2 separate regions of the Homo sapiens genome follow, and region 1 is linked to region 2. A link means that fine-mapping ties the variant in region 2 to the expression of a gene that starts in the linked region. Tissue or cell type: nucleus accumbens. Region 2 holds a variant in brackets; the other region holds the start of a gene. All regions are shown on one strand. Distances are between the middles of the regions. Region 1 holds the start of ANKRD30BL (ankyrin repeat domain 30B like). Region 2 holds the start of LOC124908048 (extensin-like).

Region 1 (5,381 bases), 120 kb before region 2:
TCTTCTGACCTCGTGATCTGCCCGCCTTGGCCTCCCAAAGTGCTGGGATTACAGGCGTGAGCCACTGCACCTGGCCTGCATTTGTTAAAAAACAAAGAATGTCACTTAATATATGCAAATTTTAAAACAACAACAACAACAAAGTAGGTGTTCTGGGGATCCTGAGATGGAATGCAGAATGTGATAGAAAATCTAAAGTACTACAAATGTATAAAGCCACTTCACTCTAGGGAGTGGGAAAAACGTGCTGACATAAGCATCTTAGAAAATGGATGGGCCTTCTGTGGTGGCTCACATCTGTAATCCCAGCACTTTGGGAGGCCAAGGTGGGCGGATCACCTGAGGCTGGGAGTTTGAGACCAGCCTGGCCAAAATGGTGAAACCCTATCTCTACTAAAAAGACAAAAATTAGCTGGGCATGATGGCGGGTGCCTGTAATCCCAGCTACTCAGGAGGCTGAGGCAGGAGAATCGCTTGAACCTGGGAAGTAGAGGTTGCAGTGAGCCGAGATCACGCCACTGCACTCCAGCCTCAGCCTGGGCAAGAAGGCAAGAAGAGCAGAACTCCATCTTAAAAAAAAAAAAAAAAAAAAAAAAGAAAAAGAAAAAGAAACAAAGAAAATGCATGAAGACTGAAAGGAAGAGAAACTGCAAACAACTCATGTGATCTGGTTGGTATAGCTGTCTCCTACAGGAAATGGGATAGCGATTCTGATATTGATAGAGAATGAATGTATATTGGAACTAGACAGTTAAGCAAACGGATGACAAATGACAGGAGCCTGGTTTCTCATTATTAAAGTGGGAGGTTACATGTAAGCAAGGGGAGAAGGCCGGAATGATCATGTGATAAAAGAATTGAGTCGTAGACATCAGTATGAACTAACACTTACACACATTACATTTAGAAATATTTATAGTTATGTGTATACACAGCTTTGTATACACACATTTATTTCTTTGCTCTGTAAACTAAGACGGTCTAGAAGCAATGATATCCCAGCAGAAATGAGCATATCTAACACTCAAGTCTTCAATTCTTGGGTTTTTGTTCATGATCCAGGATCCAGGAGTTGGGCCCTGGGGCTGGGCATTGTGTAGCCTCCGGGGTGGTGCTGAGCATCCATTCCCACCCTCCTGCAGCTGGGGACCCATCCCTTGACTTGGGCCCCCTGGAGGCAAGAACATGGTCACCCACTTTAATCACATGGTCCCTATCACATAATCAGAGGGCTCTGTGGGTTTTAATTCTTCAAGCTAGATGTGTAAACAATTCGACATAGATAAGATATAGTGACTAGAAGTCTTTCATTTATTTATTTTGAGAGAGAGTCTCTGTTGCCCAGGCTTGGAGTGCAGCGGCACAAACAATCAAACAATAACCAAAATCCAGAAGACTGAAAAGGTCAAATGCTGTCAAGGATGGGGAGCAACAGGACCTCTCATTCCTTGTTTGTGGCACAATCAGTTTACTGTACCCACGAACTCCCAGGCCCAAGTGATCCTGCCACAATCAATCTCCCAAGTAGCTGGGGCCACAGGCATGCACCACCATGCCTGGCTGATTGGTTTTATTTTTATAGAGATAAAGTTTCCCTGTGTTGTCTAAGCTGGTCTCAAACTCCTGGGATCAAGTGATCCTCCTATCTCGGTCTCCCAAAGTGCTGTAAGTACAGGCATGAGGTCCTGCACCCAGCCTGGAAGTCTTTATAGATAAGTTCAATTTAACTGTTTCTCCATCTGCTCCACTCAGCCGAGTTTCCCTCTCAGTCCAAGGGTGAGAACTGCAGCTCAGCCCCATCCAGGAGGGCTGCAGATGACCCAGCGCCACTGCCATACTCCAGATGCTGGTCAACGAGGAAGGGATCCTGAGGCCTGGCAGCGGGCGCTCTCAGGAACCTTGAAGCCCTCTAAACGGGACCCGCCATCCGTGCCTGTCAGAACTGTAGCCGCTACCTGCACTTGGCGCACAGGCAAATACGGCCAAGCAACCCCAAACTCCCCTCTTCCCCTCTGGGCCCAGGCGGCGCTGAACCTGCTGCTCAGCCGCATCCTGGCGACTGCACAGTGCCCAGAGCCTGCAAACCAGCGCTCAGGGCGCGAGCCAAGGAAGAGCAGGGCCTAGAGTGGGAGGGCGTGTGCCACACGGCTACCCTCAGGCCGTCGGGCCCAGCCCTGCAGCCTCTACCGTGGGCTCAGCTGCAGCTGGCATTTGAAGGTGGCAGCAGCGGTGGCAACCCCCGAACCTGTCCGCGCCACCAGCAGGCGAACCCCAGGGTCGGACACCGCCACTGCGCCTAAGTCAGGCAGTGGGACCTCAGTTGCAGGATCGTGGGAACCTGCCGCAAAGCCTCATCGCCGCAGCTGTACAGGGCCCAGTGGTGGCAAGCCTGCGCTGCCAGCGCGAGCCGAGGAAGAGCAGAGCCCCGGGTGGAAGGGCGATGTACTCGGCGATGCTCAGCGGTCTGGGCCCAACCCTGTAGCCTCTACCATGGGCTCAGCTGCAGCTGCCACCTGAACATGGCACGTGGCAGGAGAGGCTGCAACCCTGACCCTGCCAGCGCCACCAGCCGCGCGGATACTTGGGCCAGAAGCCTCCAGGCGCCTAAGTCAGGGATGGGTCCCTGGCTGCAAGAGGCCGGGAACCGACGCTCAGCGCCACCCTGGAGGCTGCACGATGCCCAGCGCCAGGGCCCAGCTCCTGGATCTCAGGTTGAGGAGGGGACAGGGGCAGCTCTGTCAAGCAGGCCATGTGGCAGGGAGCCCCCCACGTTCCGCTCCAGGGAGCCCCGCCAGCCCGATAGCGCCTCAGTAGCAGGTGCCACCTGCACGCCGTGCTGGGCGAAGCGCAGCCAGGGCGGTTTCCTGCCTCGCGTGTCTCCCAGGTCTGCTGAGTTGCGCATGCGCTGTTGCCTAACGGTTCTGCTCAGCTGCCTAAAGGTTCTGCTCAGGTGCCTAACGGTTCTGCTCAGCTGCCTAACGGTTTTGCGCAGCCATTTTCTCCCGGGAGAGGTTGGAGTGTCCAAAAGCTTGGCCCGACTGAGATTTCTAGTCTTGTCAGGGCGGATGCAGGGACTGAAGAAGGGCGAGGGCGAGCGGCGGGGACTGGGGAAGGGCGAGCAGCGGGAGGCACGGGCTCTCTCTAGCAGGTGGCTGCAGCCATGGAGAGGCTCTCTGCCGCCCCTGTCAAGGGCCAGACGGGCCCAGAGCGCCCGAGCCCCTTCAGTCAGCTGGTCTACACCAACAACGACTCTTACGTGATTCACCATGGGGATCTCAGGAAGATCCACAAAGCTGCCTCCCGGGGCCAAGCCTGGAAGCTGGAGAGGATGATGAAGAAGACGACAATGGACCTGAACATAAGAGATGCGAAGAAGAGGTACCAGGCCCTGCCTGAGCCGGGGCTGCAGGAGGAGGAGGAGGCTGTGGGAGGATCGCCCCTTCAGAGTGGGGCCTGGGGGTCCTGGGGACGAGGGGAGCAGGTGGAGGAGTGGCGGGCAGCGGGGCGGCCGTCCTGGGCCCCGAGGTCTTGGCCTTCTTCCCGGGCAGGTCCCCCAGGCCTTGGATGAGGGCGCCCTGCAGGGCGGAGGGCACAGGCCACCTTAAAATCAACCCCAAACTTTAGCTGCTTTCTCCTTCACTCCCACTTCCTCTCACAGAGCACTGTGTAGAGAATTTTAAAGTGATTTAACTTATAAAATTAAGTACATACAGGGTTTTACTTTTAATGTACAGGTTTTAAAAGATGTTAGATACATTATGAAATGGTGCATAATGAAATAATTCCCATAATATATTAACTTCTTGGCTAAAAATTTTTTGGATAAAGTCCAGTATCCATTTCAATATCAATGAATGTCTATGTAAATATATTCTTTGCTGAGGGACCTTAGAAGGTAACTTTGAGGTGGGAAGATGGTTTATGTTTTCGAATTTAAGAAGACTCATTTTTCTGAAGATGCAAGTTCTTTATCAGTTTTACATAAACCAAATAAAGTTATCAACGTTTTAACATTTTTAAAATTACACACGCTGTCTTTTACTATTGTGGTGACATTTAAAACATTTTGTAACGGAGTAGAAAAGTCTTGCCCTTCTAGATTTCAAAATGTGCTATTAATTTGCACAAAATGGGCCATGGCCAGGCGCGGTGGATCATGCCTGTAATCCCAGCACTTTGGGAGGCCGAGGTGGGTGGATCATGAGGTCAGGAGATCGAGACCATCCTGGCTAACACGGTCTCTACTAAAAATACAAAAAATTAGCCGGGCGTGGTGGTGGGCGCCTGTAGTCCCAGATACTTGGGAGGCTGAGTCAGGAGAATGGTGTGAACCTGGAAGGCAGAGCTTGGAGTGAGCCGAGATCGCACCACTGCACTCCAGCCTGGGTGACAGAGCAAGACTCCGTCTCAAAATAATAATAATAAATAAATAAATAAATAAAATTTGAAAAAAAAAAAAAAAAAGGGCCAGGCGTCGTGGCTCATGCCTGTAGTCCCAGCACTTCGGGCGGCCAAGGCGGGTGGATCACCTGAGGTCAGGATTTCAAGACTAGCCTGGCCAATATAGTGAAACCTCAAATCTACAAAAATACAAAAATTAGCCAGGCAGGATGTCGGGAGCCTGTAAGCCCATCTACTCGGGAGGCTGAGGAGGGAGAATCGCTTGAAACTGGGAGGCGGAGGTTGCAGTGAGCTGAGATCCCATCACTGCACTCTAGCCTGGGAGACAGTGAGACTCTGTCTCAAAAATAAATAAATAAATCACAAATTATTTGATAACAGCTGAAAAGACAGGTAAATGAATACAACAGAGTAGAAAATCCAGAAACACCCAAATATCTAAGAATTTAGAACTTGATAATGCTCACAGGTTATACTAGTAGGGAAAGAATTAGTTTCATAAGTGAAATGCCTGCTTTTTGGAGAAAACTAGATTTTTATGCCACAAAGTAAATTTCTGATGGAATATAGATTAAATTTTTTTAATATACAAAATGATAAAAGCACCAGAAGAAAACATAAATACCTATTTACACAGGTACATTTTTATGTTGACAACACCTTTCTAAGAAGCTCAGAAGCAAGCAGTCTGAAGGATAATTAAGCAAAACAAAATTAAATTAAACTGTAATGAGAAAAAATAAAAGGCAGCATACTTGTAAAATATTTACTACACATGTATGTGAGTGTGTGTATACATATTAGATTTTTAAATCGTCATTTTATAGATAATTCACTTAAATCAACAAAAAACCCGCTAATTATAATTGAGCAATTTAAGTTAGAGATATAAATTGCAGATCTAAAAATAGTACTTTGCTTCTAATTTAAAATTGGGAAAGTATTTTCTTAAGATCTGTAAGTGACCTATGCACACAGAA
Region 2 (5,330 bases):
TTGTGCCACTGCACTCCAGCCTGGGTGACAGAGGGAGACTCCGTCTTAATGATAATAATAATAATAATAATATGCTCATAATGTATTGCTGAGTATTTGACATGTAGAAATGTAATATATCTATAACATATTTTCCAGTAACATCAAAGAGGAGGTAGTTGGAAGAAAAATGTATTGTGATAAGGTAATCACTCTAGATGGTAAAGTAGTAATTACTAAAATGTATTGTTGGCTTTGTAACTTTAATAGATATAATGTGTAAAGTGATAATACTTTAAAATGGAGGAAATATAAGAGATTTGTATAAGAATGATGTTTCTATGTATTACTAAAAGTTTACTAGTATAAATTGGAAGATGATTTGAATAATTAATTTTCCATATACCTATATGGTAAACTTACAACAACAACAAAAATTCCCAAAAATATATACTAAAATAATTCATTAGTAATCTAAAGTTCCATATTTTAGAAAATATTCATTCATTGCAAAATAAAGCAATAAAGAAAAATATTTGAGAAATACACAAAACAAACGGTAAAATGGCAGACATAAATAGAATTATACCAATTATAATATTAAATGTGAGCAGATTAAAATCCATTCAAGAGGCAGAGATTCTCAGACTGGATTAAAACAAGTGATCCCAATATACGCTGAGACGCAAGGATACTAATGGATTGAAAGTAAAAAGATGACAAAAAATATCATGCAAAGAGCAATCATAAGAACACTGAACTCATTATACTCATAACACACGATATAGACTATTAAAAATGTGAATAGGATTTTAAAAATTTATATTGTAGTAATAAGGGGGTCAGCACTTTTGGAAGACATAGCTATTACAATCATGTATGCACAAATATGAGCTAAATTGTTTCATCTATATAGACGCTGAAATCCTAACCACTGAATATGACCTCATTAGGAAATAGGTTCTTTGCAGGTGATTAAGTTAAGATAAAATCAGATGAGCCTGAATTCAATATGACTGATGTCCTTATAAAAAGAAGAAAATTGAGTAGAGGGAGACATACATACAGGGAGAGTACCATGTGATTATGAGGGCAGAGATTAGCCAAGAAATGCCAAAGACTGCCACTAAACCACCAGAAGCTAGAAACAAGGCACAGAACAGACTTTCTCTCATAGCCCTTGAAGGGACCATCCCTGCTGACACCTCAGTCTCAGACTTTTAGCTTCCAGGACTATAAGACTATAAATTTGTGTTGTTCAAGGCACCCAGTTTGTGTTACTTGGTTATGGCAGCCCTAGAAAACTAATACATGAACTAATAACAAAGCATAAGAACATGAAGCAAAAATTGACAAAAGAGGAGCATCAGCAAAATGGCAGTGGAGACAACTGCAATCTTTCACTTCCCCACAGAAACATCACACAACTAAGAGAAACTGTCCGAATAAACTTTGCCAAAACTCTGGAAAATGGTCAAAAGATTACAACAACCAAGTGAAAGCAGACTCAAGAACAAGACAACTTGAAAACTTTATGACGTTTTTAACTTGCCTTTGCCCCAGCAAATTGGCTGTTTTGAAGTGTCAGAAGCCCACGTTCCCAGTGAGGAAACCTGGTCCATCGTCCAAAGGAACAAGAGAAGATCTTACCCTCAAATTATTATGTGTCTGTTCTGACTGGTCTGGGGGATACCTAAAGGACTAATGAAAGGCTTTTTTGTGTGTGTTGCTAGGATACAGAACAGATAAGGAATGGACATTATTAAGAAACTCTACAAGGAGACCTAACAAGCCACAGATGCTTAGGGCAAAAATTAGAGTTTACACATATAGTAGATCACCTTCAGCACAGGAAGAAAAGTTGGAGTAGAGTATATGGAAAACTAAGACATTCAAAATCATTCACGTACATGGGAGAGTCTAGAAAGTCACATGTATGCATACGTTAAGCCACATGCTGACAAATGTCATAAGAAGACCCTACACTTTTACCTTCGCTGATCCCTCCCCTCAGTGCAGGCTCTGTGCAAGAGTGAACTTGAACTTCACTCAGTGCAAGAGTGAACACACACTTTGTCCCGGCTTTAAAGAACCCAGCACAAAGCCAGTCTGCATGGCCTAGAGACCTATTTTGCTGGATAATGATTACTTGTTTTTCTTTTTGTTTTTGTTGTATTTGCCTGTTTGCTTAGTTCCTGACATACAAGAAAATCAGTCAAAACATTATCTTAACATTTGTTAAGGAAACAAAAAGACTTGGGTGACCACACCTTATAAAGCAAACAGTTTTGTTAATCACTTTGGAAAATTTCACTAAAAAAAAATCCTTAACAATATAATAAGTAAATAAAATTTAAAACCACAGAACGTTAGTATGTTTGTAGGGGGGGGTCTGATTTACAGAGTAACCACA[T/C]AGTAATTATAATTATTATAATGTCCAGTTTTCAAAAAAAGTTACAAGGCATACAAAGAACGGGAAAGTATGGGTCATTCAAAGGGACAAAATAAATTGACAGAAAATATCTCTAAGGAAACCCAGACATCAAACTTACTAGACAAAGACTTTAAAACAACTCTCTTAATTATACTCAAATGTCAAATGTCAAAAGGAAAACATAAACAAAGAAATGAAGGAATCAGAAAAAAATATTAAAAAGTAGGAATATCAACAAAGAGATAACAGAAATTCTGGAGTGGAAAACTACAATGATAAAAATTTAAAAATCACCAGAGGGATTTAAGAGTATATTTGCACACACAGAAAAAGTCATGAGCTTGAAGATAAGAAAATGGAAAATATTGATTCTGAGAAACAGATAAAAAATGAGCAGAGACTAAGGAATCTGTGGGACATCATCAAATAGACCAACATTCATATTCTACAAGGATAAATTATGCTGTTAAAAACTTTACCTTTCTTTCCTTTCACCTTTCTTTCTTCCTCCCTCCCCCTCCTCCTCCTTTTTACTTTTCTTCCTCTTCCTTTCTCTTCTTCTTTCTCTCCTTCATTATCCCTTTTGCTCTGTTTCTCTTTCTCCCTTTCTTTTTTCTTTTCTTTCAATTTTCTCAATTACTAAGAGATGTTTAAATACCCTTACCATGTTAGTAGATATGGTTATTTCTCCCTTTAGTTCTCTTTTGAGATTTATAGTCACTCTAAGTAAAGAGATAACCCAAACATAAGCCTCACAAACAGGCTTCCATACCGTTCTTAATTTGGTCCTGTAATTCTTCATGTCTGTATTAACCTTCTGATGCTTTTAAGGATGTTTTATAACAAATTGTTTAGTTTTTTCCAATGGAATGTTTATTCTGAATTATCTAATTCATACTGTAAGTATATAGGGAGTTTAATATAAAATTATTAAATATTTGTGAAAGAATGTATTTGTGCATTTAACAAATATGTTAATCCTCAAACTGTTATTGGGCAGCTGAGCATACAGCAATAAAAATAACATAATTTTTATGTGTACAATATTTATGGAATACGTTACTGGAACAAATAAATAATTTAGTTAATAACAGGACAAAGAACAGAAATTGTATACACTATAGAGCATAGTAATGGAATAATGAATGATTAAAGTTATTAATATTAGGTAGAACATGAAGGGTATCTTTGAGAGCAGAACTCAAGGAAGCAAGCAATTCGCCTTATGAGGAAAGAGTTACCTGTGGATAAAGGAGAAACTGAAAAATTTACAAGTCAAGACTTTTTAAGCAAAAACAAAAATATGACTTTTAGTCACCAATTCAGTACAGTGAAAAAAAAGTTGAAGAAGAGATATCTTGGAAGTAAATCATGTTGTGGAAGAGCACATAGGGTTTTGATAATCATGGGATTATTCTGAATTAATTTTAAATGCGATAGGAATATATGAGATAATTTCACCAGAGAATAATATGATTCCGTTTGCATTTCAAAGGGGTGTATCTGGTGCACTGTGTAGAATAAATAGGTTATGTGAGCAAATAAATTGGGAGGCTATTGTAATCCAGAGAAAAAAGGTAGTGACTTAGGTGAGAATGCTGTAAGTATGAGTGGTATTAGTGGTGAGAAGTCGTTAGGCCATGGATGTATTTCATAGGACTGGCCAAGAGAACTGCAGCTAAATTGGAGTGTAGGGAGTGAAATGGAGAACTCAAAGATGACTCTCAGCACTGGAAGGTGACAGCTGTCACTGAAGCATGCTGATGCCTCTTATTAAGAGAGTTACTTGGGAATGGCAAGATCAAAACTTCTCACATTCAAATTTATGAAAAATATTGTTTTCAGAACGAATGACTTTGGGATCAGAAAGCCATCACTCTAATTGACGGTTCCACGACTACACAGGCTCACACTCCCAAGAGCAAAAGTAAATCATCACAAAGGTGCTTCCTGATAATTCTAGAGAATGGAGAATTACTGTAACATCTTTCTGATTTTAGGAGAGGTAGCAGTTCCCTTTTTAGCCTAAACGCTATTTTTTTTAAAGCTCAGCCAAGAGACTCCATTATAATTTTCAAATGTGTGTAACTTAAATTCTCATATTAAATACCACTATGCTTAAATTAGTCAAAACATTTTCCCCATCTACAACTCTATCTTTTCATCGCAATCATTTTCACAAAAGTGACTGCAGCTAACAGACCCTAAAGGGGAAAATCTAGGGTAGGTTATCTGATCTAGTTAGTTTTGAAGACAGGATCTAGAGATTATTTAATATGAAATAGGTCACCTGAAATGAAGTGTTTACTGAAAACAGCTTGGATCAGCCCAGTTTTCTACCACTGAACCATGCATTTGGTTTAAAAAACACAACAACACTGGGGAATATTGGCTGCTTCCAACTGTGTTGAAGGTGTTAAAGAAAAGAGCATAAAATTATAAATGATCATCTGAGGCCTTTATAGTCTCTGCTCAAGAGACTAGAGTCTTCCATTCTTAACGAAACACCCAAATATCTTAATAATTGGGCAAAATCTAAATATCAGAGAAATAATTTTATCTTGAAGATTGTTAAATTATAATGGTGATTCACTACCTTGCCACGTCTCTGAGTCAAAAATTAGATCGTTGTTTAGGAATCAATTGTACTCTGCAACTTGGAAATAGGAAGATTTTAGAAGACTCAAACATTGACTTTCTTGTGTGCAAAAAAAAGACGTATTGACATAAGACAAGTCTTCCCTTGCAAGGATACCTCTAGTGCTCATACACCACCTCTCCTAACGTTAATATAGCTTCCAGATCACTAACCAGTGTCAGAGAGCAGCCTATGCAACTACAAATTAAAAAGATGTCGAACACAGGGTCAAGCCTAGAATAAGAAGTCTTAGCTAATTAAGTATGCTTTTCCCCCCAA

The links. PIP is the estimated chance that this variant, and not a neighbour inherited with it, causes the effect.
Region 1: ANKRD30BL starts here. The variant in region 2 is fine-mapped to the expression of ANKRD30BL in nucleus accumbens (GTEx, PIP 0.96).

Annotation. Positions count from the first base shown.
Region 1 is chr2:132,159,485-132,164,865 of GRCh38, reverse strand. ANKRD30BL (ankyrin repeat domain 30B like) reads left to right here and starts at 2,914. Exons shown (of 6, transcript NM_001358416.1): 1 at 2,914-3,378. The coding sequence starts at 3,161. RefSeq lists an enhancer at 2,121-2,621.
Region 2 is chr2:132,040,031-132,045,360 of GRCh38, reverse strand. It overlaps LOC124908048 (extensin-like), which reads left to right and starts at 3,639. Exons shown (of 4, transcript XM_047446884.1): 1 at 3,639-3,777. The coding sequence starts at 3,639. The variant T/C (reference allele first, on the strand shown) is at 2,393.